2 linked regions of the Homo sapiens genome follow. The protein of the gene in region 1 interacts with the protein of each later gene in a pairwise test. Each region holds a gene or a part of one and is shown in the gene's direction. Other genes may lie near its edges.

Region 1 (15,759 bases):
GCTTCTTGTGACCCCGCTTTTTAGCCTCCTTTCTTAATTTTCGATGATGTTCTCGAACCTATTAAAATAAAGAGATTTTGTCTGCTTACAAAAATATCTTTATACTTAAGCAGAATTCAAGTGAGAAACCAATCTGGCTGCAATTTAGTTATGCCTATAAAATGTCCTAGGAAAATGGAGCTTTAATTGGAATCTTACAAAGTAATGCATATGTAAGTATAAAACAGCAAGAAATTGTAACTAGAAGGCTCTCTATGCAGAGATTAACATGCTGAACAAATTTAGAGACTTATCACCAAATCACTGCACTTTCTCACAGCTGCACTCCTGATGCCTAAGAGCTTGTGCCCATGGTCAGTCTATCCAATGCCATTTCCCAAAACCAAATCACATTAACCCAGACTTTCCCGCAAAGGAACAGGGCAAAATCAGTTTAGCAATGTGTTTGGTACAGCTCTCTCAAGCACTACACTTACCTTTTTTTGGATTTTATACCGCTTATGGCAGGTCATGCGTTTACTTGCTTTCTTTAACTCTACAAAGAAACACATCACAAATCTGTTAACCCAAATGATTAGTTCTGGGTTAACGCACTATGGAGTTATATCCTTTTCTTGTGTTATTGGCTACCAAACCTAACGTTAAGTCTAATGCGAAATGCCTAATGCAAACATACGTGCTACTTTCAAATCCCAGAGAATTAAATTCAGTAGATCCAGAATGGAGTCAAAATTCCCTGCACTTACCCTCACAATATTAGAATGGGATCATACACAACAGCGTATGAGACACAAAACGACAACCACTTCGTGTCAAACAGCACGAATCATAAGGCAGGAGAGGAACACTGAGTCTGGGAGGCGATTCTCAGCTCTCACCTGGGCCAGTCTGCACGTGGCCACGGAAAGAAAATATTGGGCCTCAAACCTGGCTCAGACGCTGCTTCCTTACGAAAATCTAGCCTAGTCTTCCCCACCCTCTGCCCGGCTTCGTTCCGCAGAATGAGCCCGCGCGGTTAACATGATCGCCGTAGGGACTTCCAACTCTCGGTTCTACCAGGAAATAGGGCCAAGGCCTACGCGTAGGCTCCCACCCCCATACCAGCAGAGACAAAGCCGTAGCCGTAGAAGAGCGTCGTGGTGGCTGCAGCAACTTCCAGACGTGGGTCCCTCCACGCCCGCCTCCCGACCCCACTTACTAGGCCTTTTCATATTGGCTGTAGAAGGAAGCACAAACACATCAACCTGCCTCCGCTGGCGCCACGTGTGAACTGAAGCCACTGACGAGCGTCACGCACTTACGCTGCCGCCGTAAAGTGCGTCACCGCCTCTCTGCGTGCGCGGGCACGCAGTGTCGCGCGGAGCAGGGATCGCTTGGCGGCCGCGGGACTGGTTTTGCGGCGGCACCGGGAGGGGTAAGGGAGGTGAGGGCGGCGGGTGCCGAAGCGACGGCAGCGGCCGCGGCCGGAGGAGCAATAGCAGCAGCCGTGGCGGCCACGGGGCGGGGCGCGGCGGTCGGTGACCGCGGCCGGGGCTGCAGGCGGCGGAGCGGCTGGGTAAGGCCGGGCCCAGGGCGGGTGGGGCCGCTCCCCCTTGGTCAGCTGCCGGGCCTTTGTGTGGGCCCGGGCGGGCGGGAGCCGCGGCGGAAGCCCCGCCCCGGCCGTGGGGACGCGCGGGTCGGGCCGGGCGCGCGGGGTTGGGCGGGGCGCGGCGGCTGGCCTCCGGATGGGCCCAGTAGCCTTGTCGCACCTGCCGGCAGGGACAAAGGCGCACTACGGGTCGGAAACTCCCCGCGCTCCTCTTTCCCGCTCGTCGCGGGGCAGCTTCAAAGCTGTCAACGTTTCCCTCAGTCCCCAATACCAGTGACAGGTCGGGAAAGTCCTTCATTTCCTCCGTTGCTCAGGGCCTCTTTTTTTTGTTGTGGTTTCTTGACGGTTCGACACAAACTCTTAGTGATTTTCTTTCCGTATTTTTTCCGGGTATTTTAATCAATGGGACTTGTATTTATAGTAGAGGCCAGATATTTCAGCTTCTCAACACCACAAAGAATCCGGGATTTTGGGAACTGTGTATATTTCTTGGTTTGGGGAAGCACAGTTTTGTTATTATAATAAGTTTTAATTTAAAGGGGAAGAAAGAGTTGCAAAAATATAGAAAAAGCCCTGAAAAATAAGTACACGGTATAGTGGATATAGAAATTCTTACAATAATTATAGAAGCGTATGTTGGGGTGAATTGTTTTAATTAACTTACTTTCCAACACAGGATTCTTGACAAATAATTTTAGGTATTATTTTTTTCTCCATTTGGCTATGTGCTTTTCCCCAAAAAGTGCAAATTGGACTCATGCACATAAAAGAGTAGCATAATTTTTGCTTTATTACTTACAGGTCGCCCATATTTGATTTTGAGCTCCAAAATGGAAGATTGGAAAATATGTTTTGAAGAGGTGTTTCAAATTAAAACAATAAAGAGTTTATGTGTGGATGAATGGAAGGGCCTTGACCGCTTTCTTTGGCTTTGGGAATGTACAAAATACCTCAAATGTTAATATCCTACCAAAATTCCCAAGATAAGTAAATTGTGGTGTATCTATATGATAGATTACTATCAAGTCATCAAACATCATGAGGAAGAATGTTGACTTGGAAGAACCTTCACTAAAACACAGGCTGTAGAATAATATATGTGGTTTGTTAACATTTTGGTAAAAAATAATAGGTAACTAAGGCATAAATACCAAAAACCGAATGACAACGTTAAGAGTGGTTTTTTTCTTGGAAGTAGGTTTATAGGTGTTTTTTTTCCTTTGAGTCCTGTTTTCCAAGATTTTGTTTTAAACATGTATTGTATTGCTAAATATTACTAGAAATATAGGAGAGGGCTAAAGTTCATAAACGGTCGAAATACACTGTTTGTCTATAGTAAGTCGATATTCTCCCAGTTGCACATTATTAAGTATTCTTAACTGTCCACTATAAATTATTGATTGTTAGACTTTTGAACTTGTAACTGTAATCAAGGCCATTTTAAAACTTGGCATTGAACTCTGGAATCTGTCTTTCCTCTTCATGGAAAGACAAAATTGCTGAAGGGATGCTTACAGGCATTTTTTTTTTTTTTTTTTTTTTTTTTTTGAGACAAGGTCTGACTTTGTTGCCCAGGCTGGAGTTCAGTAAAGTGATCATGGCTCACTGAAGCCTTGTGCTCCTAGGCTCAAGCAGTCCTCTCACCTCAGCATCCCAAGTAGCTGGGATTACTGATGTGCAGCACCACACCCAGCTAATTTTAATTTTTGTAGAGAAAAGATCAATCTATGTTATCCAGTCTGGTCTTGAACTCTCTGCCTCAAGCGGTCATCCTGCCTCAGCCTCTCCAAGTGCTGGGACTACAGATATGAGCCCCTGTGCCTGGCTGAGGACTTTTAAACTATACAAATAAACTTTTTTTTTTGAAGGTCTCAAGTGCACTTTTTTTTTGTTTTTTTTGGAGACAGTCTTACTCTGTCCCCCAGCCTGGAGTGCAGTGGCGCAATCCCAGCTCACTGCAATCTCTGCCTCTCTGGTTCAAGCAATTCTCGTGCCTCACCCTCTCGAGTGCCTGGGATTACAGGTGCATGCCACCACCTTGCCTAGATAATTTTTTGTATTTTTGATAGAGACGGGGTTTCACCGTGTTGGCCAGGCTGGTCTTGAACTCCTGACCTCAGGTGATCTGCCCACCTCAGCCTCCTAAATTGCTGGGATTACAGGCATGAGCCACTGTGCCTGGCCCTAAGTGCACTTTTAATACATTTATTAAAAGATAAACTGAGCACATAACCTATACCAAATACTATCCTGTAAGACAGGTCTACAAAAATGAATATGCTGTTCCTGTGCCTGGGGAACATGCAGAAGTGATTTCACTTTATGTTGTTTTTTTTTTTTTCTTGAGACGGTCTCGCTCTGTCACCCAGACTGGAGTGCAGTGGTATGATCTCGGCTTGCTGCAACCTCTGCCTCCTGGGTTCAAGCAATTCTCATGCTTCAGCCTCCCAAGTAACTGGGTTTACAGGCATGCACTGCCTCAGCCAGCTAATTTTTTTTTTTATTATTTTTTTGAGACAGAGTCTTGCTCTGACGTCCAGGGTGGAGTGCAGTGGTGCCATCTCGGCTCACTGCAACCTCCGCCTCCCGGGTTCAAGCGATTCTCCTGCCTCAGTCTCCCAAGTAGCTGGGATTACAGGTGCGTGCCACCAAGCCCAGCCAATTTTTTTTGTATTTTTAGTGGAGACGGGGTTTCACCGTGTTAGCCAGGATGGTCTTGATCTCCTGACCTCAGGTGATCCATCCGCCTTAGCCTCCCAAAGCGCTGGGATTACAGACATGAGCCACCGCACCCAGCTAAATTTTTGTATTTTTCTTTAGTAGAGACAGGGTTTCACCACGTTGGCCAGTCTGGTCTCGAACTCCAAGTGATGCACTGGCCTCGGCCTTCCAAAGTGCTGGGATTACAGGCATGACCCACCACTCCCGGCATTACGTTCTTATTTTAGAGATGAAACAGATCTGAGAGGTTACATCAACTAATCAGACAACATCAAGCTGATAATCAGAGGTGGAAGACTTAGGACTCCTATTCTGGTCTTAGGAGCAAAGGTCCTGTTGTTTCTCCCACCTTATAACATTGCCCTTCTTGTCAGACTTTCAAAATACATTTTAAAATGTGTCCCATGGATAAGAAAATACTTGAAAATTATCCTTAAGTTGAAACTTTTTCTTATCTTACCAAAGTAAATTAATGATTCAAGGATATTGGGATATTGTGTCATCCGAACGACATACACATGCTGATAATGTATTTTTTTGTCATTTGATTTTCAGTGGATTATTTATAAAAGTAATTTTGAACTCCTGCCAAAATGGTTGGCCCTTTTTTTTTTTTTTTTAACCTTGTCAAATTTTTATATGGTGTCTCCAATGCAGATAGGACTTTTGGAAATAAATGTTCTTTCTCTGAATTTTTTTTTTGTGGGGGAGGGTGTTTTCCAGACCTTTTGCTCACATGAGCCATTCTTGGTTTGTTCCAGCTTGCCAACACTTGGTGTCACATGTGAGCCTCCCACATGTATTCACTCTCCATTCCAGCTCTGTGATTGAACTCTGCTCTTATTGACTAGGGGGCAGTTGGGCAGGCATGCCTCATTCCTGGAATTGACAGTCATTCCTAATGTGAGTAAAGGGGAACCTCAATGAGACATCTTTAAACATATGAAAGCATTTGGTTTTAAAATGGAAGAACTGTCAGGTACTGTTAGTGCCTGAGCCTTTGCAGCAGTTTGTTTGATAGGTACAAGAGAACTGATATGCCTGTTTTCTCCAGTTCTCTTTATCTTTCTTTAGCAGTTCTATTTGAATGTTTTCTATCTATTCGTACTCATTTTTACTCCTTCTGACCCTTCTTTTCTATTTCCCCCTTCTCTGCCTTGTTCTTCTTTTTCAGTTTTGAATATACTAACACTGAATCAGCACTTCTAAAGCCCTTCCTTCTCCCACTGGCTTCACTTGGCTTTCAGACATAATGAGGAGACTGGCTTTTCGAGGCGCTGGTTGTGCTCTGGTAAAGCTGGTAAATTACTGATTATCTACACCCTTTCCCTTTTCTGTCCTTCCTTGACTTTTTCCTTCCACCTTTCTTAAATTTTTGTTATCCTTTCCACAAAGATTCCCTCCTTATGTTCATCAAATTCACTTGTGTCTTTGTCATAGATTGTTTAAAAGGGATTGGTCCTTAATTTATCTTAATGAATTGAGTCCTGTTGATCAGCTTTTTATAAAATGAACAAAAATCAGCAAAACTTGGCTAAGTTTTGGCTAAGCCTTTTGACGATTTTAACTACTTTTAGCCAACTTCAAACTAATAATACTGTATAACAAACCGAAGCCTAGAGTAAGGAACATCATCGTGGTAGATTTTGTTTTAAACACCATGTGGACTTTAGTTTGGAAAAAGAGATCTGAGACTTCTCTTTTTCCTTAATTGCTCACCAGGATTTTCAAATGTGATTCTTTTGCTCCTTCTTTCTGTTTCCTGGAGATCCCCAACCTTTCTTTCCATACTGCTGGCAACCAGTGTTCTCCTGTTCTAATCATTCAGCTGCTGGTGTCGTAGTGTCCTGAAATTCAGTGTTTCCATGTGCCTTACAATTATGAGGTACTCTAGTTCTATGAGGTTCCTCATAATTGTAAGGCACATGGAAAAGCAGATGAGGTGCTGACTCAAGAAGTGAATACCTTGGGGCCTCTGAACCCCAGGCCTGCCTGACTACCTCAGGGGCTGAAGGATCAATACCTTCAGTGTTGATGAGTGAAACTGGGATCTTTTTTTTTCTTTTAGCTTTAGAAAAAGGCCTTTGACGGGCGGATCACGAGGTCAAGAGATTGGGACCATCCTAGCCAACATGGTGAAACCCCGTCTCTACTAAAAATACAAAAATTAGCTGGGTGTGATGGCACACGCCTTAGTCCCAGATACTCTGGAGGCTGAGGCAGGAGAATCGCTTGAAACTGGGAGGTGGAGGGAGGTTGCAGTGAGCAGAGATCGTGCCACTGTACTCCAGCCTGGTGACAGAGCGAGACTCCACCTAAAAAAGAAAGAAAGAAAGAAAGAAAAAGGCCTTTCAAATCACAATATACTATTTGATAGTATTGTTAGATTGTATTGCAATATAAGCATTGCAGGACTTTCTTGGGTATATACTATCTGTAGCAGATCATTCAGTGGTTGCATTTCTTGTGTTGTAAATAGAGTTATAGTTAAAATTGTTATAGTTAAATAGAGTACGTGTTATAGTTAGAGTATGTCATATCACTAAAAGGTGATTAGTTTGAATTAACAGAAGAGTTTCAAAGGATAGTTTGTACCTCTGTCTAGGTATAGCAAGTCTCATTAAGTGTTTTCCAGGGATATGTCTTGTGGATCCTGTTTTAATGAATGGAGAACATTCATTTTCAGGGTTTTAATTTTAGAGTACATCTAAAGTGCTAGAAGGTTAATTGTCCTCTGTCCCCTTACCTTTTTGCACTACTCATTTGTCCTGGGCTCTGCTTCTTGCTCTTTTCCACATGATGGCCCACCTAGCAAATGATCATAATTGTAAGGCACATAGAGAAGCAGATGAGGTGCTGACTCCAGAGGTGGATACCTTGGGGCCTCTGTACCCCAGGCCTGCCTGACTGCCTCATGGGCTGAAGGCTTAATACCTTCAGCACACTAATGTACTGCTACATATAGGTTGGGAAACTCTAGGCCAAATTTGGAGCCAGAAGTTGAGTCATTCAAGATTGCTGATATACAAATGAATATGCTTTTGTTGAATTTGTCCCATCAAAATTGGAAGTATAGCATTCTGGTAAGTGAAAGACTAAAACAAGGAAGTCCAGGGCTTAAAAAAAAAAAAAAACTTATAGCTAGTTAAACTACAACACGTTAAAATATCCTCCTAAGTGAGCCAGGAGTTTGGTAGCAGGTGTCCAGCTGAAGACTTGGTGACAGAGTCTATTTAAATGTAAGAACATGGCTGATTATTTCTTATAGAAGAAGTTGGATTCCATGGGTTCCAAGAGAAGAAGAGCTACCTCCCCTTCCAGCAGTGTCAGCGGGGACTTTGATGATGGGCACCATTCTGTGTCAACACCAGGCCCAAGCAGGAAAAGGAGGAGACTTTCCAATCTTCCAACTGTAGATCCTGTGAGTAACTTGGATTACATGGTTTCTGCCTGCTCTTCCCACAATTCCCCTATCTTCCCTTTAATGGTAAAATTGTTACGATGCAAGGCATCTCCACTTTTTTAAGATTCTCTTGATTAATAGTCTTTTCTTTTATGAACATTATGTATTCAGCTAAGTCTTAGAGTAATAGTGTGATCTTATGAATAATTTCAGTATGTTACATCATATATTAATTCAGCAAATAACTGTGTGACTATCATGTGACAAGCACTGTTCTCATGGTTGGGATATAGCCATGTGGAAACAAGCCCATTTTTCACATGGAACTTAGATTCCAGGCGGGGGAAGTAGAATGTAAACAAGTAAACGAATAAAGAATAATGTATCCTTAGCTAGTAATAAGTGCTAAGAAGAAAATTTTGGGTGATTTGGGCTGTTTTGGCCTGAATTCGCTGGAAGAGAGTTCCAGACAGAACCAGTGCAGAGGGGTTGGGTCAGGGATGAGTTTTGTGTGTCTTGGTTACAGAGCAGGGGATGGTCAGGAAGGAGAAGGAAACTGGCAAGCTCCACCCATTCAGAGTATGTAGGGCCCACACAAGCAATGTTTGGAGTTTAGATTTTATTCTCTGTGAAGTGATAAACCCTTCTGTCAGATGGCTTTAAGCAAGAGAGTGATAAACTGATTTAGTTTCAAAGAAGAAAACCCTTCAATTGGATGACTTTAAGCAAGAAAGTGATGAACTGATATAGTTTAGAAGACAAAATCACCAGGAGCATAAATCTGATGAAAGATACCAAAAAGTTAGTCAACTCAGTTGTTTGAAAGGAGACATATTGTCAGCATATTTCAGACTTTAGCATGTTTGGTAATATTGAGAGTCATCATTTTTCTTCTCTACTTGCCTTTTATTGAAGAGTAGAAAATAATTCTTATGTCTACACTGGCTTTCTGTTCACTTTTTTAGTGATTTTTTTCTCCTTTGCTAATGTGTAGATTGCCGTGTGCCATGAACTCTATAATACCATCCGAGACTATAAGGATGAACAGGGCAGACTTCTCTGTGAGCTCTTCATTAGGGCACCAAAGCGAAGGTGAGTTCGAAGCACATCAGTACAGTTGCGGGGGATTTGGTCCAGAGTCCATGTGTATTAAAGTGTTTGGAAATTGAGCTTTTTGTTGGCAGGAATGGCTTAAATGATACTGGGGTCCAATTTTAGTCTTTAGTCTTTAGTAATCAAGCTGTAGTGAAGCTTTTTTTAAATTAAAAATCTGTTGAGCCAGGCACAGTAACATGCACCTATAATCCCAGCTACTTGATTTTTTGAGCCAGGCACAGGAGCATGCACTTGTAATCCCAGCTACATGGGAGACTAAGGCAAGAGAATTGCTTGATCCAAGGAGTATGACACCAGCCTGGGCAACATAATGAGACCCCGTCTCTTAAAAACAAAAACAAAAAAAATGACCTATGCGGAAAGATCTCTTGAGGCCAAGAATTTGAGACCAGCCTGGGCAACATAGTGAGACCCATCTCTACAAAAAATTTTTTGAAAAATTAGCCAGGTGTGGTGGTGCTCACCTATAGACCCAGCTACTAGGGAGGCTGGGGTGGTAGGATTGTTTGAGCCTGGGAATTTGAGGCTGCAGTAAGCCATGAGTGTCACTGCACTCCAACCTGGGTGATGGAGCAAGAGCTTGCCTAAAAATAAATATTTAAAAAAGAGTACTGACCAGGCACAGTGGCTCACGCCTGTAATCCCACCACTTTGGGAGGTCTATAGGTGGGCAAATCACCTGAGGCCAGGAGTTCGAGACCAGCCTGGCCAACATGGCAAAACCCTGTCTCTACTAAAAAATACAAAAATTAGCCAGGTGCAAGGCTGGGCGCAATGGCTCATTCCTGTAATCCTAGCACTTTGGGAGGCGAAGGCGGGTGGATCAGCTGAGGTCAGCAGTTTGAGACCAGCCTGGCCAACGTGGTGAAACCCCGTCTCTACTAAAAATACAAAAATTAGCCAGGCTTGGTGGTGGGCGCCTGTAATCCCAGCTACTTGGGAGACTGAGGCAGGAGAATCACTTGAACCCGGGAGGTGGAGGTTGCAGTGAGCCGAGATCGTACCGTTGCACTCCAGCCTTGGTGACAAGAGTGAAACTCCATCTCAAAAAAAAAAAAAAAAAAAAAGCCGAGCATGGTGGTGGGGCGCCTGTAATCCCAGCTACTTGGGAGGCTGAGGCAGGAGAATTGCTTGAACCTGGGAGGCAGAGGTTGCAGTGAGCTGAGATCCCGCCACTGTATTCCAGCCTGGGTGATAGAGCCATTCTGTAGGTTGCCTTTTCATTTTGTACGGTGTCCTTAGATGTACAAAAGGTTTTAATTTTCATGAAGTTTATGTTGTCTTTTTCTCTTGTTGCCTGTGCCTTTGGTGTCATATCCATGAAATTAATGCCAAATCCAATATCATGAAGCTTTTCCCCTATGTTTTTGTATTAATCAGGGTTCTCTTGGACAGGACTAGGCTGCAAATTTTCCAAACTTTTATGCTCTGCTTCCCTTATAAAACTGAATGCCTTAAACAGTACCCAACTCACCTCTTGAATGCTTTGCTGCTTAGAAGTTTCTTCTGCCAGATACCCTAAATCATCTTTCTCAAGTTCAAACTTCCACAGATCTCTAGAGCAGGGGCGAAATGCCCCAGTCTCTTTGCTAAAACATAACAAAAGTCACCTTTACTCCAATTCCCAGCAAGTTCCTCATCTCCATCTGAGACCACCTCAGCCTGGACCTTATTGTCCGTATTGTTATCAGGCTTTTGGTCAAAGCCATTCAAGTCTCTAGGAAGTTCCAAACTCCCACATTTTCCTGTCTTCTTCTGAGCCCTCCAAACTGTTGCATCCTCTGCCTGTTATCCAGTTCCAAAGTCGCTTCCACATTTTCGGGTATCTTTTCAGCAGCGCCCAACTCTACTGGTATCAATTTACTGTATCAGTTGGTTTTCACACTGCTGATAAAGACATACCCGAGACTGGGAAGAAAAAGAGGTTTAACTGAACTTACAGTTCCATATGGCTGGGGAGGCCTCAGAATCATGGTGGGAGGTGAAAGGCACTTCTTACATCAGTGGCAAGAGAAAAATAAGCAAGAAGCAAAAGTGGGAACCCCTAATAAACCCATCAGATCTCATGCAACTTAATCACTATCACGAGAATAGCACGGGAAAGACTGGCCTCCATGATTCAGTTACCTCCCTCTGGGTCCCTCCCACAACATGTGGGAATTCTAGGAGATAACAATTCAAGCTGAGATTTGAATGGGGATACAGCCAAACTGTATTGGTTTTCCTCTAAGAGTTTTATAGTTTTAGCTCTTACATTTAGGCCTTTGATCCATTTTGAATTTTTATAAGTAGTGTTTAGGTAAGGATCCCGCTTCATTCATTATTTTTTTTTTTTTTTTTTTTTTTTTTTTTTTTTTTTTTGAGACGGAGTCTCGCTCTGTCGCCCAGGCTGGAGTGCAGTGGCGGGATCTCGGCTCACTGCAAGCTCCGCCTCCCGGGTTCACGCCATTCTCCCGCCTCAGCCTCCCAAGTAGCTGGGACTACAGGCGCCCGCCACTACGCCCGGCTAATTTTTTGTATTTTTAGTAGAGACGGGGTTTCACCATTTTAGCCGGGATGGTCTCGATCTCCTGACCTCGTGATCCGCCCGCCTCGGCCTCCCAAAGTGCTGGGATTACAGGCGTGAGCCACCGCGCCCGGCCCCCGCTTCATTCTTTATATGTGTGTATCCAGTTTTCCCGGTATCGTTTGTTGAAAAGACTGTGCTTTTCTCATTGAATGGTTTTGGCGCCTTTGTCAAAATTTGCTTGACCGTGTATGTGAGGGTCGTTTCTAGGCTCCATTCTATTCCATTGGTCCCTGTGTCTGTTTTTATACCAGTAGCACACATTTTGATTACTGTGAACAACATATTCAGTGGCAAAATACTTAAAGCTTTTCCTCTAAGATCACGAACAAGACAGAGATGCCCACTTTCACCACTTCAACACCTTGTTCACTGTGGAATAAATCCCACCTGGTTATGGTATATAATCCTTTTAATATCCTGCTGAATTCAGTTTGCTAATATTTTATTGAGAAATTTTGCATCAGTATTCATAAGGGATATTGATCAGTAGTTTTCTTGTAGTATCTTTGTCTGGCTTTGGTATCAGAGTAATGCTAGCTTCATAGAATAAGTTAGGACGTGACCTCGCCTCTTCAATTTTTTGGAAAAGTTTCATAAGGCTTGGTGTGTTAGTTCTTGAAATGTCTGGTTAGAATTCATCAGTGAAGCTATCAGTCTAGGGATTTTCTTTGTGGGAGATTTTTTATTACTGATTCAGTCTCCTTACTAGTTATAGGTTTACTCAGGCTTTGTATGTCTTTAGTAGGTTGTGTGTTTCTAGGAAATTATCCATTTCTTCTAGTTTATCTAATTTGTTGGCATACATGTTTTCCTAGAACTCTCATAATCCTTTTTATTTTTGTGGCATTGGTTGTAATGTCTCCTCTTTATGATTTTAGTTATTTGCATCTCTTTTCTCCCTTACTTCTTCCCTCCCTCCCTCCTCCTTTCTGTCTTTTTTTGAGACAGGATCTTGCTTTGGCACCCAGGCTGGAGTGCAGTGGCAATCACAGTTCAGTGCAGACTCAACCTCCCGGACTCAAGCAGTCCTCTCACCTGATGCTACCATACCTGGCTAATATATATGTTATATATACGTGTGTATGTATATAGTAAACACATAAAATATATATATTGTATATATAACGTATTTTTTATTTATATATGTAAAAATATGCTGGATTCTTACCTAACGCTACATACATATTAAAAAATAACGTATGTAATGTTAGGTAAGGAGATATATGTGTGTGTGTGTGTGTATATATATATATATATATATATTTTTTTTTTTTTTTTTGGTAGAGACAGGGTTTCCCTGTGTTGCCCAGGCTGGTCTCAAACTCCTGGGCTCAAGTGATCCTCCTACCTTGGCCTCCCGAAGTGCTAGGATCACAAGTGTGAGCCACCACACCCAGCCTCTCTCTCTCTTTTTTTTTTTTTTTTTTGAGATGGAGTTTCGCACCAGGCTGGAGTGCAGTGGTGCGATCTCGATTGTGGCTCACCACAACCTCCGTTTCCCAGGTTCAAGCGATTCTCCTGCCCCAGCTTCCCGAGTAGCTGGGATTACAGGCATGGGCCACCACGCCCAGCTAATTTTGTATTTTTAGTAGAGACAGGGTTTCTCTATGTTGGTCAGGCTGGTCTCAAACTCCCGACCTTAGGTGATCCGCCTACCTTGGCCTTCCAAAGTGCTGGCATTACAGGCGTGAGCCACCGTGCTCAGCTCTTTCTTTCTTAGTTAATCTAGCTAAGTGTTTACCAATTTTGTTGATCTTTTAAAAAAACCAACTGTTTAATTTTTAAAATTGTTTTTCTATTCTCTAATTTCGTTTATCTGCATTCTATATATATATCTATATATATATTTTTTTTTTGAGACAGTGTCTTGCTCTGTTGCCCAGGCTGGAGTGCAGTGGCGTGATCATGGCTTATTGCAGCCTCTGCCTTCCAGGTTCAAGTGATTCTTATGCTTCAGCCTCCCAAGTAGCTGGGATTACAGGCGTGTGCCACCATGCCTGGCTAATTTTTGTATTTTTAGTAGAGATAGGGTTTCACTTTGTTGCCCAGGCTGGTCTTAAACTCTTGACCTCAAGTGATCTGTCCACCTCATCCTCCCAAAGTGCTGGGATTATAGGCATGAACTACTGCACTGGCCCTCCTTTCTATTTATTATCTACTGCTAGCTTTGGGTTTAGTTTGCTCTTCTTTTCTCTAATTCCTTGAGAAAGAAGCTTTTTTTTTTTTTTTTTTTTTGAGATGGAGTCCCACTCTGTTGCCCAGGCTGGAGTGCAGTGGCACAGTCTTGGCTCACTGCAACTTCCACCTCCTGGGTTCAAGCAATTGTCCTGCCTCAGCCTCCCGAGTAGCTGGGATTACAGGCATACACCACTATGCCTGGCTAATTTTTTTTGTACTTTTAGTAGAGACGGAGTTTTGCCATATTGGCCAGGCAGGTCTCGAACTCCTGACCTCAGGTGATCCACCCGCCTCAGCCTCCCAAAGTGCTGGGATTACAGGCATGAGCCACTGCACCTGGCCGAGAGTGAAGCATGTTTTTTAAATTATTTAATTTTTTTGTTTCATTTTGTTTTTTAACACCTGGTTCACATAGGCAGTATAAAAATTAATAGTTCTTATGGCTGGGCGCGGTGGCTCATGCCTGTAATCCCATCACTTTGGGAGGCTGAGGCGGGTGGATCACTTGAGGTCAGGAGTTCGAGACCAGCCTGGCCAACATAGTGAAACCCTGTCTCTACTAAAAATGCAAAAATTAGCCGGGCGTGGTGGTGGGTGCCTGTAATCCCAGCCACTTGGGAGGCTGAGGTGGGAGAATTGCTTGAACCCGGGAGGCGGAGGTTGCAGTGAGCTGAGATTGCACCATTGCACTCCAGCCTGGACAATAAGAGCAAAACTCCGTCTCAAAAAAATTAAAAATTAATAAAAAAAATTAATAGCTCTTAAGACTGTATTGAAGTTGTCACAGTGATAGTTAAAAGGGATCAGTTTTTTAAATTACACAGAGAGGCATCTTGCACACAACTTCCTATGGAAGGTATGTTCCCCTAACTAGAACATCTTTCCTCTCTTGCTGTCAAAATATAATCACTATTCTCTTCAAAACTCTGGCAATTGGCCAGGCGTGGTGGCTCATGCCTGTAATCCCAACACTTTGGGAGGCCGAGACAGGTGGATCACCTGAGTGCAGGAGTTCGAGACCAGCCTGACCAACATGGAGAAAGCCCATCTCTACTAAAAATACAAAATTAGCCGGGCGTGGTGGTGTGCACCTATAATCTCAGCTACTCGGGAGGCTGAGGCAGGAGAATCACTTGAACCCAGGAGGCAGAGGTTGCAGTGTGCGGAGATAACGCTGTTGCACTCCAGCCTGGGCAACAAGAGTGAAACTCTGACTCAAAAAAAAAAAAAAAAAAAAGCCAAAAAAAAACCTCTGGAAATTGAAGTTATTTGTTCTGAAAACGTATATGAGTGTGTTAGTCAGAAAACTGGTGCCCAAATATTTCCACATTCTAATCCCTGAAACCTGTGAATATATTGTGTTACATGGCAGAGGGGAATTAAGTTTGCTAATCAGCTGATCTTGAATTGGAGCGGTTATCCTGGATTATCCATGTGGGTCCAGTGTAATCACAAGGGTCCTTAAATGGGGAAGAGGGAGACAAGTTCAGTCAGAGATTTGAAGATGCTGTAGTGCTGGCTTTGAAGATGGAGGAAGGAGACTACAAGCCAAGGGATGCAGGTGAGCTCTAGAAGCTGAAAAAGGCAAGGAAACCTTTTTCGCTAGATGCTCCGTACTAGAACATCCAGACGGCATGCAGCCCTGCTAATACCTTGATTTTAGACCAGTGAGACCCATTTTGGACTTCTGACCTCTAGAACTAATATAATAAATGGGTTTTGTTTTAAGCCCTGAAGTTTGTGGTAATTTGTTACAGCAGCTGTAGAAAGCTGTGAGTTAACTAAAGATTTAGATTCATTCATGATTGTTGATGCTACAGTGGGTAGTTACCAAGCTCTAAGTTGAACTGGAGGCAAATTTCTCACCTCAACGAGCAAGCCACTGAGAATGCAGTGTCATCATCCTGAATTAGGAGAGCCCTGTAAATTAGCAAATTAGCCATGGCCAAAAAGGAAGCATTGTTTTTAAAATGAGGTAACTGTCTCCATATTTGAGTTGGTTTATCAATAATAGTCTTCTGAAAGTTGTCATTTAATTAGCATAAAGTAGTAAAAGCATGTATTTATTGTTTGCCACATTCTAGACACAATACCAAGCATTTTCCCAATCATATCTTATTTAAAATTCTGAGTTATCACAGTTTATAGGTGAGAACTTGCACAAGTTCTTGTAACTACTAAAAG
Region 2 (7,394 bases), on another chromosome or scaffold:
TGAGCATTTGAGAAGAAAACATTTCTTTCTTGGCTGTAAATAAAACCCAAACCATATTTGTTTTAATAATAGCCAAGTTGTACTATAGCTCTCCCTAAACTTTGCTTCCAGCGCGGCTTCCCTTGCTAACTCTGCCAACCAGTGTCAAAGTGGACGGTGGGCTTAACCTCTGCTATTAATCTGTACAAGTGCCTCCTGGGCTTTGTTCCAAGCAATATTTCACAAATGTCAGTGCTGAGAACTCGCGGCTCCCCTGAGTGGGATGCAGCCTTGTTAACTTTGAAAGGCTGGGGATGCAGAACTGGCATGATATATACAGTGAGCGATTCCTGATTATAATCCCAATTCTCTGGAGGTCGCGGAGGTATTCTCAGCAGCCCAGCCTGACTAAAGGGGAGAATGATGGCTTATAAAACCTTTCATGATTACAGTTTGGCTTGCGGCTCTACAGCAGTTAGGAGCGGTGTGTTGTAGTACACATCCTAATTGAATTGTGCTGTTCTGCCTATGTACTGCAGCCACATTTTGTGAGCTCAGCCTCAAAATCATTTTCCCGCAGTGCACTGTTGGGATCTGCCATTTTCCATCTAGTCAACTTGGGCAGTCAAAAAGCAAATTGCAGTTTGAAAACCATAGAGGGAACCGTGTCATCTTACTGACATGCATCATCCTAAACCTAATAAGACAGGTTCGCTGGCCTTATGTATATGGGGATTTTTCAGCCAGCCATGCGAGTTCCTGCAGGACTGATGCTATTCACAGAGTGGATGGGGGTGGACTCAGTGCACCCCTGCAGAGGTCATAAAGGAACATTGCGAATCCTTCTAAATGTCAAGCAAAATTAGATCTGGGGAAAAATAGGGTCAGAAATCCTCCCAGGCATCTTGCAGTTATTCTGAACCTGTTTTTCTATTAGTGTTTGTGGTAATTCTGATAATATCCCTGAAGTGTAACTTGGCTCCCAGTAGCTTCCCTAGAAGGAGCGTTCCATAGAATGATCTACTAAAACAAGGTCCACTTGGATTCAACAGAGATGCTAACCTTGACTGAAAAACAAACTTGTGTTGTGGCAGTGCTGTGATTTTGCCAGTGATGGGGCCTTTCTTTGTTTCTGTGTGTTTTCTGTGCACGGATGGGCACGGCACAGGCTATGAGAAGTACAACTCCATGCGAGCTGACCCCGCGCTGTGCTTTCTGGAACGAGTCGGTATGCCTGATGCCAAGGCCATAGCTGCCGAGCAAAGAGGAACAGACATGCTAGCAGATGGTGGTGACGGGTAAGAAGGACATTTTAAAATTTGAATAAACTTTATGTCAGTTTCACATCTATTGGCAGGGTTCAGTTCTTACCCTGCAGTACACACTGTATTGTGTCTGATTTGAAGTTCAGGAGATGTTTACCAGTCTACTCTATTTGTATGTCGTAATGACTGTTTAAACAATATACATTATCTTGATAATCTGAAACTTGTTTTTCTTTTCCAAATGTCATTTCCCGCAATCTCCCCAGACCCCCTCCACCACACTGCCATGGCTGCATGTTTTAAATACTGATAGAGTTGCTTTTGATGTCAAACCCATAATTAAAAGTAGCACTGGGCAGATTATTACTCTTTCCTACCCACCCCCCTTCCTTCTTTTGCTTATCAGTATGATTCAAATAATTTTTGTGTTTGTTTTACATAGGGGAGAATTTGATAGAGAAGATGAAGACCCAGAATATAAACCAACCAGAACACCGTTCAAAGATGAAATAGATGTATGAACTTGAGTATATTGGCTTTTATAGCTCCATTAAAATATTATATGCCCACATAAGACTTGTTAAACTTTATAGATAATGACCTTTTCTTTAAAAGACAAAGAAAAATGAGACCCCAAATTAAAGTAATTCTGTTTCTTGCTTTGCTTTCAAGGAATTTGCAAATTCTCCTTCAGAGGATAAGGAAGAATCCATGGAAATACATGCCACAGGTAAGGTCCCAGAAAAGCTTGTGTAGCCGAGCAGACGTGCACTGAGCAGTCATTGTTCACGTGGTAGGGACTGTCCTGCTTCATGACAGCAGTGTCTTAACACCTTATTTCTTCTACACTGACCTGTTTTGTGAATCATTTTAATTCTTGTTAATGGCTGTGTTTTCATGACATTGAATTTCTTAGATAGGATAACTATTTCTTTGATGATAATTAGCTGATTTATATTTTACACTAATTAGTGAAAAATTTTAAGCATCTAAACTATAGCTCTTGGGAATAGAGCATAGAGCATTTGCTAAGTATTCACCTAAAATATTTTCAGTTTATTTAGAATATTGACCTTTTACCGAATATAAAATCATTACACAACAATTATGCAGTTATTTTTTATACTCAAGATGATTATTGCACATACATTAGAGGAGAGTACCTTATAAGAAGTTTATGCTGTAAAGTGTGTTTCTTTATGTAGGACTAATAAATAATGTTTTCATCCCCTCTAAGGAGGTAAAAAAGAAATAAGTGTATATATTCCAAGTGAATGTTATTACTTATTTATATTTTAAAAATGAGGGCACTGAGATGCCCTTTCCCACACTGTCATTTGAATCTTAATGAGTCATCCTGTTTTGTTGGAATACTCTGTATTGCAAGATTGCAGCTACACATTTCAAAAATGTTTTTCCACTTCCCCAGGCAAGCACAGTGAGAGTAATGCTGAGTTAGGCCAACTTTACTGGCCTAACACTTCAACCCTGACTACACGTCTGCGCCGGCTCATTACTGCCTATCAGCGCAGCTATAAAAGGCAACAGATGAGGCAAGAGGCCCTAATGAAGACTGACCGGCGCAGACGGCGGCCTCGAGAGGAAGTGAGAGCTCTGGAAGCGGAAAGGGAAGCTATTATATCTGAGAAGCGGCAAAAGTGAGTTTCTTCAAGGTTTCCACTCAGCTCCCGGTACATGCCCCTCTGCCCTGCTCCTGTAGACCCACAAGAGACAGGACTCATATCAAAGGTAGTGACCACCAAAGAAAGGCTCGCTCCAACAAAGCAGTCTGTTTCCCCACCCCCAAATAACTACCATGTATAAAGTCTGGGGGGAAGAAGAAAAGAAACAGTAAATATTAAGTCTTTTCCTGAAGTATGATGCAAGCTAATATAATCTTTCTAACAGGTGGACAAGAAGAGAAGAGGCTGATTTTTACCGTGTGGTATCCACCTTTGGGGTTATTTTTGACCCTGTGAAACAGCAATTTGACTGGAACCAATTTAGAGCCTTTGCCAGGCTTGACAAAAAATCTGATGAGAGTTTGGAGAAATACTTCAGTTGTTTTGTGGCCATGTGTAGGCGAGTATGTCGAATGCCCGTCAAGCCAGATGATGGTAGGTACATTTAGCAACAAAGTTCTATACAAAAAGACGAGTAAAGTGAAAAATAAGAAAGTGTACAATGTAGAATGCCCTTGAATTCTCCCCAAGTAAATATGAGCCCTTCTGTGTTACAGAACCGCCCGACCTCTCCTCCATAATTGAGCCGATCACAGAGGAGCGAGCCTCTCGAACTCTGTACCGCATTGAGCTGCTACGGAAGATCCGCGAGCAGGTTCTCCATCACCCCCAGCTGGGAGAGAGGCTTAAGCTCTGCCAGCCAAGCTTGGATCTGCCAGAGTGGTGGGAGTGTGGACGGCATGACCGAGACTTGCTGGTTGGTGCTGCTAAACACGGGGTCAGTCGGACGGATTATCACATCCTCAATGACCCTGAGTTATCCTTCTTGGATGCACATAAAAACTTTGCTCAAAACAGAGGGGCAGGTAATACATCTTCCTTGAACCCACTGGCAGTTGGATTTGTCCAGACTCCTCCAGTCATCTCATCTGCTCATATTCAAGATGAGAGGGTACTGGAACAAGCCGAAGGCAAAGTGGAGGAGCCTGAAAACCCAGCTGCCAAGGAGAAATGTGAGGGCAAAGAAGAGGAAGAAGAAACCGATGGCAGCGGGAAGGAGAGCAAGCAGGAATGTGAGGCAGAGGCCAGCTCTGTGAAAAATGAACTGAAAGGTGTTGAGGTCGGCGCAGACACTGGGTCCAAATCTATTTCAGAGAAAGGTTCCGAAGAGGATGAAGAGGAAAAGCTGGAGGATGACGATAAGTCGGAAGAGTCTTCCCAGCCCGAAGGTAAGGCCTTACCACTGGCCCCTCTCCTGACCCTGCAGCAGCTGGTTGTGAGATGCGTTGCTTTCTGGCAGCACGGCACCTGCTCTTTTTCACGAGTACTTAGTGTACATTTTCTTCTGTGAAGGGATAATTTCAAGTTATGCTTATATCTGTGTTTTGCTCTCGCACCTTATAGCACCTAACCATGGTATTTTGAAGAACATAAACTCTAAGAAGGGTTGCATGGACACATTAGCAATTTCTGGTTTAAGGATGGAAGTTAACTTGTAGTGAGTGACAGTGTATTAAGAATTCTATGTGATTTTAATTTTGACAAATGTGAGGGAAGGTGGTCATTCACTGAGTAAATATTGTTAATCATTTTGAAACAACTGGTGCTTGTTATGTTTTGATTCAGAAGTAAAGAGTGGGAATAGAATCTAAAAATAACCAATTTTTTAAGTCACAGTACGGTTGCTGAAACTGGCCCAGAATAAAAATAGAGCACGTACTGTGCTGTAGCTGGAACCTTCAACTTTTGACAGAAGGTCAGCCCTTTTTTCTGTGTGGAAGAACATAGACTCTTGAGTCAATGACTTGGTTGGCTATCAGCCTCTTGTAAGGTTTACTTGCACGGTGCTAGGTGGCTAGTGACTAACCTCTCTAAGCCTCTGTGTCATCATCTGCAAGATGGAAATAACACCATCTATGTTAAAGGGCTGTTGTAAGCTTTAGACAACAGTGCCCAATACCATTCTAGCCATGTAGTAGGTACTCAATAAAATGGAGCTGATTAGTATTCACATTTTTAATCATGTCCTTTCTAAACTTCAGTTTCCCTGATACTGTGGTTGTGAGTAATGCACATTAACTCATTTCTCAGCAGGAGCTGTCTCTAGAGGGAAGAATTTTGATGAAGAAAGCAATGCTTCCATGAGCACTGCTAGAGATGAAACCCGAGATGGATTCTACATGGAGGACGGAGATCCTTCAGTAGCTCAGCTCCTTCATGAAAGAACATTTGCCTTCTCGTTTTGGCCTAAGGTTGGCAGGTTTTTGTTGCTGTTGTTTTGCTGACCAAAAAGGATTAGGGTAGAGGAAATCTTTCTAGCTTGATTTTTCAAGTAATTTTAAGGTAAACTTTTGACACAGTATATGAAGACTATAGATTTTTCTTATACTTTTAAAGAATGATCTGAAAAAGCCCAAAGAAAAAAATTGTAGAACACTTTTCTAATAGGATGGGAAATGTGATGTGAAAGAAAGATAATAAGAAATAGAAGTGTGTATATGGATTGATCTTTGGCTCCATGTGGCTTTTAGGTTACTTACCCCCGTTGTCTAGCATAATGTATGGATTATCACTGTGTTTTAAAATTTTTTTGTGAAATAAAGCCTTCAGATTTAAGACAACTTTATAGTTTTGGAAACCTACCAGCTTCTTGACTTGGAAGAGGGTGTACTGTTGACCCATTTGCTTTTGACGCATTATGAGATAATTCCAAATGTAGTTATCTGTAACCAAAAGCAAAATGGAAATTACTTTTTTGGCTAAATAGTATAATTTTATAATAATTCCCTGTGTAATTTAGGTCTGTTTTTCAGGGTGAGGAAATAATCATCCTAATCACCATAACAGGGCTGTCTGGTTTAAAACAACACAAAAAATGAGCTTCAGTCAGCCTACCCCCCAGGCTCGTCTTTCCCAGTATTATTGTGTAAGAAACAAGGTGAAAATTTTGACCAAAGAATGTACTGTCAAAGACATTTTGTTTCCTCTCTCTATCCCTTTAGTTCCCCTGTTATGCTAACCTCCTTTATTGAGTGTAGGAGGGAGTTTCCCAGATCAGTCAAAGGTTATAGTAGCAGGCACTTTTAATCTATGGAAACTCAGTCTAAAGCTGTAATTAGAAATTTTTAATGTACACGCTTCAATGAAATTTGAAGTGATAATAGGTAGGGAATGCAAATTGACATTCATTAGGTGTTCCTAGGTTGGTGCCCACTTCATAATGCTGAACTTTATTAATAGTGACGCTAATGATGTCCTACTTCCTGGGACTGCAATCCAGCCTGTAGATCTGAAGGGCCAGGGCGGCAAGAAGCTAATGCAGGGTTTCCATTGTCATCTACTGACATCCACCAGCAGAGCTCTATGGAGCTTGTACAAGAGTTACTTTTTAAATATGAAGATATTTTGAAGGTGGTGATTATGTAGTACATTTTTCTGTTTTATGTAGTTCAGTGTTCGTAATTAAAAATAGCATGTTTTCTGTGTTGAAGCCACCTAGGACCTTCTGCCAGAGCAATGCCATTATAGGAGATTTTGTTTATTTACTTTCTTGTTTGATTTCTTGCCTTGTTTTCTTTTACTTTTTGTCCTCCAGTTGACTTTTAAACATTTTATGCTCTTTTGCATCTTGATGGATGTATTTATCTAGTAATTTTAACCAGGGCTTTGTTAAAATTTCTTGTGACTTTTCTTCTCCCTCCAGGATAGAGTAATGATAAACCGCTTAGACAACATCTGTGAAGCAGTGTTGAAAGGCAAATGGCCAGTAAATAGGCGCCAGATGTTTGATTTCCAAGGCCTCATCCCAGGTTACACACCCACCACAGTGGACAGCCCCTTGCAGAAGAGGAGCTTTGCTGAGCTCTCCATGGTCGGCCAAGCCAGCATTAGTGGGAGTGAGGACATCACTACGTCTCCTCAGTTGTCAAAGGTGAATTAGAATGGCTTGTTTCTGCAGCTTAAAAGGGAGCTCTCTAAGCCTTAACTGAGTTTGCGAGCTTATATTTCACTGGCCTTGCTTAGAAATAAGATAGCTGCTGTTTCCTCAGCTCTGTGCACCAGTCATGAATGCTTAATTCCTTAAGCTTCTTGTTCCTTATTTCTAAAAGCCAGCCCATATAGCAGTACTGTTTTGGCTCACTGCAACTCTGTTCTGTTGGAATTTTTCAATAGGAAGATGCCCTCAACCTCTCTGTCCCTCGCCAGCGGAGGAGGAGGAGGAGAAAAATCGAAATTGAGGCCGAAAGAGCTGCCAAGAGGCGAAATCTCATGGAGATGGTTGCCCAGCTTCGAGAGTCTCAGGTGGTCTCAGAAAATGGACAAGAAAAAGTTGTAGATTTATCAAAGGCCTCAAGAGAGGCAACAAGCTCTACCTCAAATTTTTCATCTCTTTCTTCAAAGTTTATCTTGCCTAATGTCTCAACACCAGTGTCTGATGCCTTTAAGACTCAAATGGAACTGCTCCAAG

The links.
Region 2: the proteins of PBRM1 (region 1) and CHD7 interact in binary tests that used the Homo sapiens proteins (3 or more experiments, as listed by UniProt).

What each region holds. Positions count from the first base shown.
Region 1 is NC_000003.12:52,671,545-52,687,303, reverse strand, and holds the start of PBRM1 (protein polybromo-1), read left to right. Parts: upstream 1-1,390; 5' UTR 1,391-1,555; intron 1,556-1,704; exon of another isoform or gene 1,705-1,868; intron 1,869-2,389; exon of another isoform or gene 2,390-5,212; intron 5,213-5,483; exon of another isoform or gene 5,484-5,561; coding exon of another isoform or gene 5,562-5,609; intron 5,610-6,377; exon of another isoform or gene 6,378-6,441; coding exon of another isoform or gene 6,442-6,444; intron 6,445-7,577; coding exon of another isoform or gene 7,578-7,592; coding exon 7,593-7,730; intron 7,731-8,706; coding exon 8,707-8,804; intron 8,805-15,759. Other genes in the region: GNL3 (guanine nucleotide-binding protein-like 3), read right to left, coding at 1-58, 477-535, 1,199-1,211. UniProt on the Homo sapiens protein: Involved in transcriptional activation and repression of select genes by chromatin remodeling (alteration of DNA-nucleosome topology). Required for the stability of the SWI/SNF chromatin remodeling complex SWI/SNF-B (PBAF).
Region 2 is NC_000008.11:60,849,346-60,856,739, forward strand, and holds part of CHD7 (chromodomain-helicase-DNA-binding protein 7), read left to right. Parts: intron 1-1,147; coding exon 1,148-1,277; intron 1,278-1,686; coding exon 1,687-1,759; intron 1,760-1,916; coding exon 1,917-1,974; intron 1,975-2,673; coding exon 2,674-2,902; intron 2,903-3,152; coding exon 3,153-3,361; intron 3,362-3,483; coding exon 3,484-4,155; intron 4,156-5,017; coding exon 5,018-5,178; intron 5,179-6,629; coding exon 6,630-6,857; intron 6,858-7,099; coding exon 7,100-7,394. UniProt on the Homo sapiens protein: ATP-dependent chromatin-remodeling factor, slides nucleosomes along DNA; nucleosome sliding requires ATP. Probable transcription regulator. May be involved in the in 45S precursor rRNA production.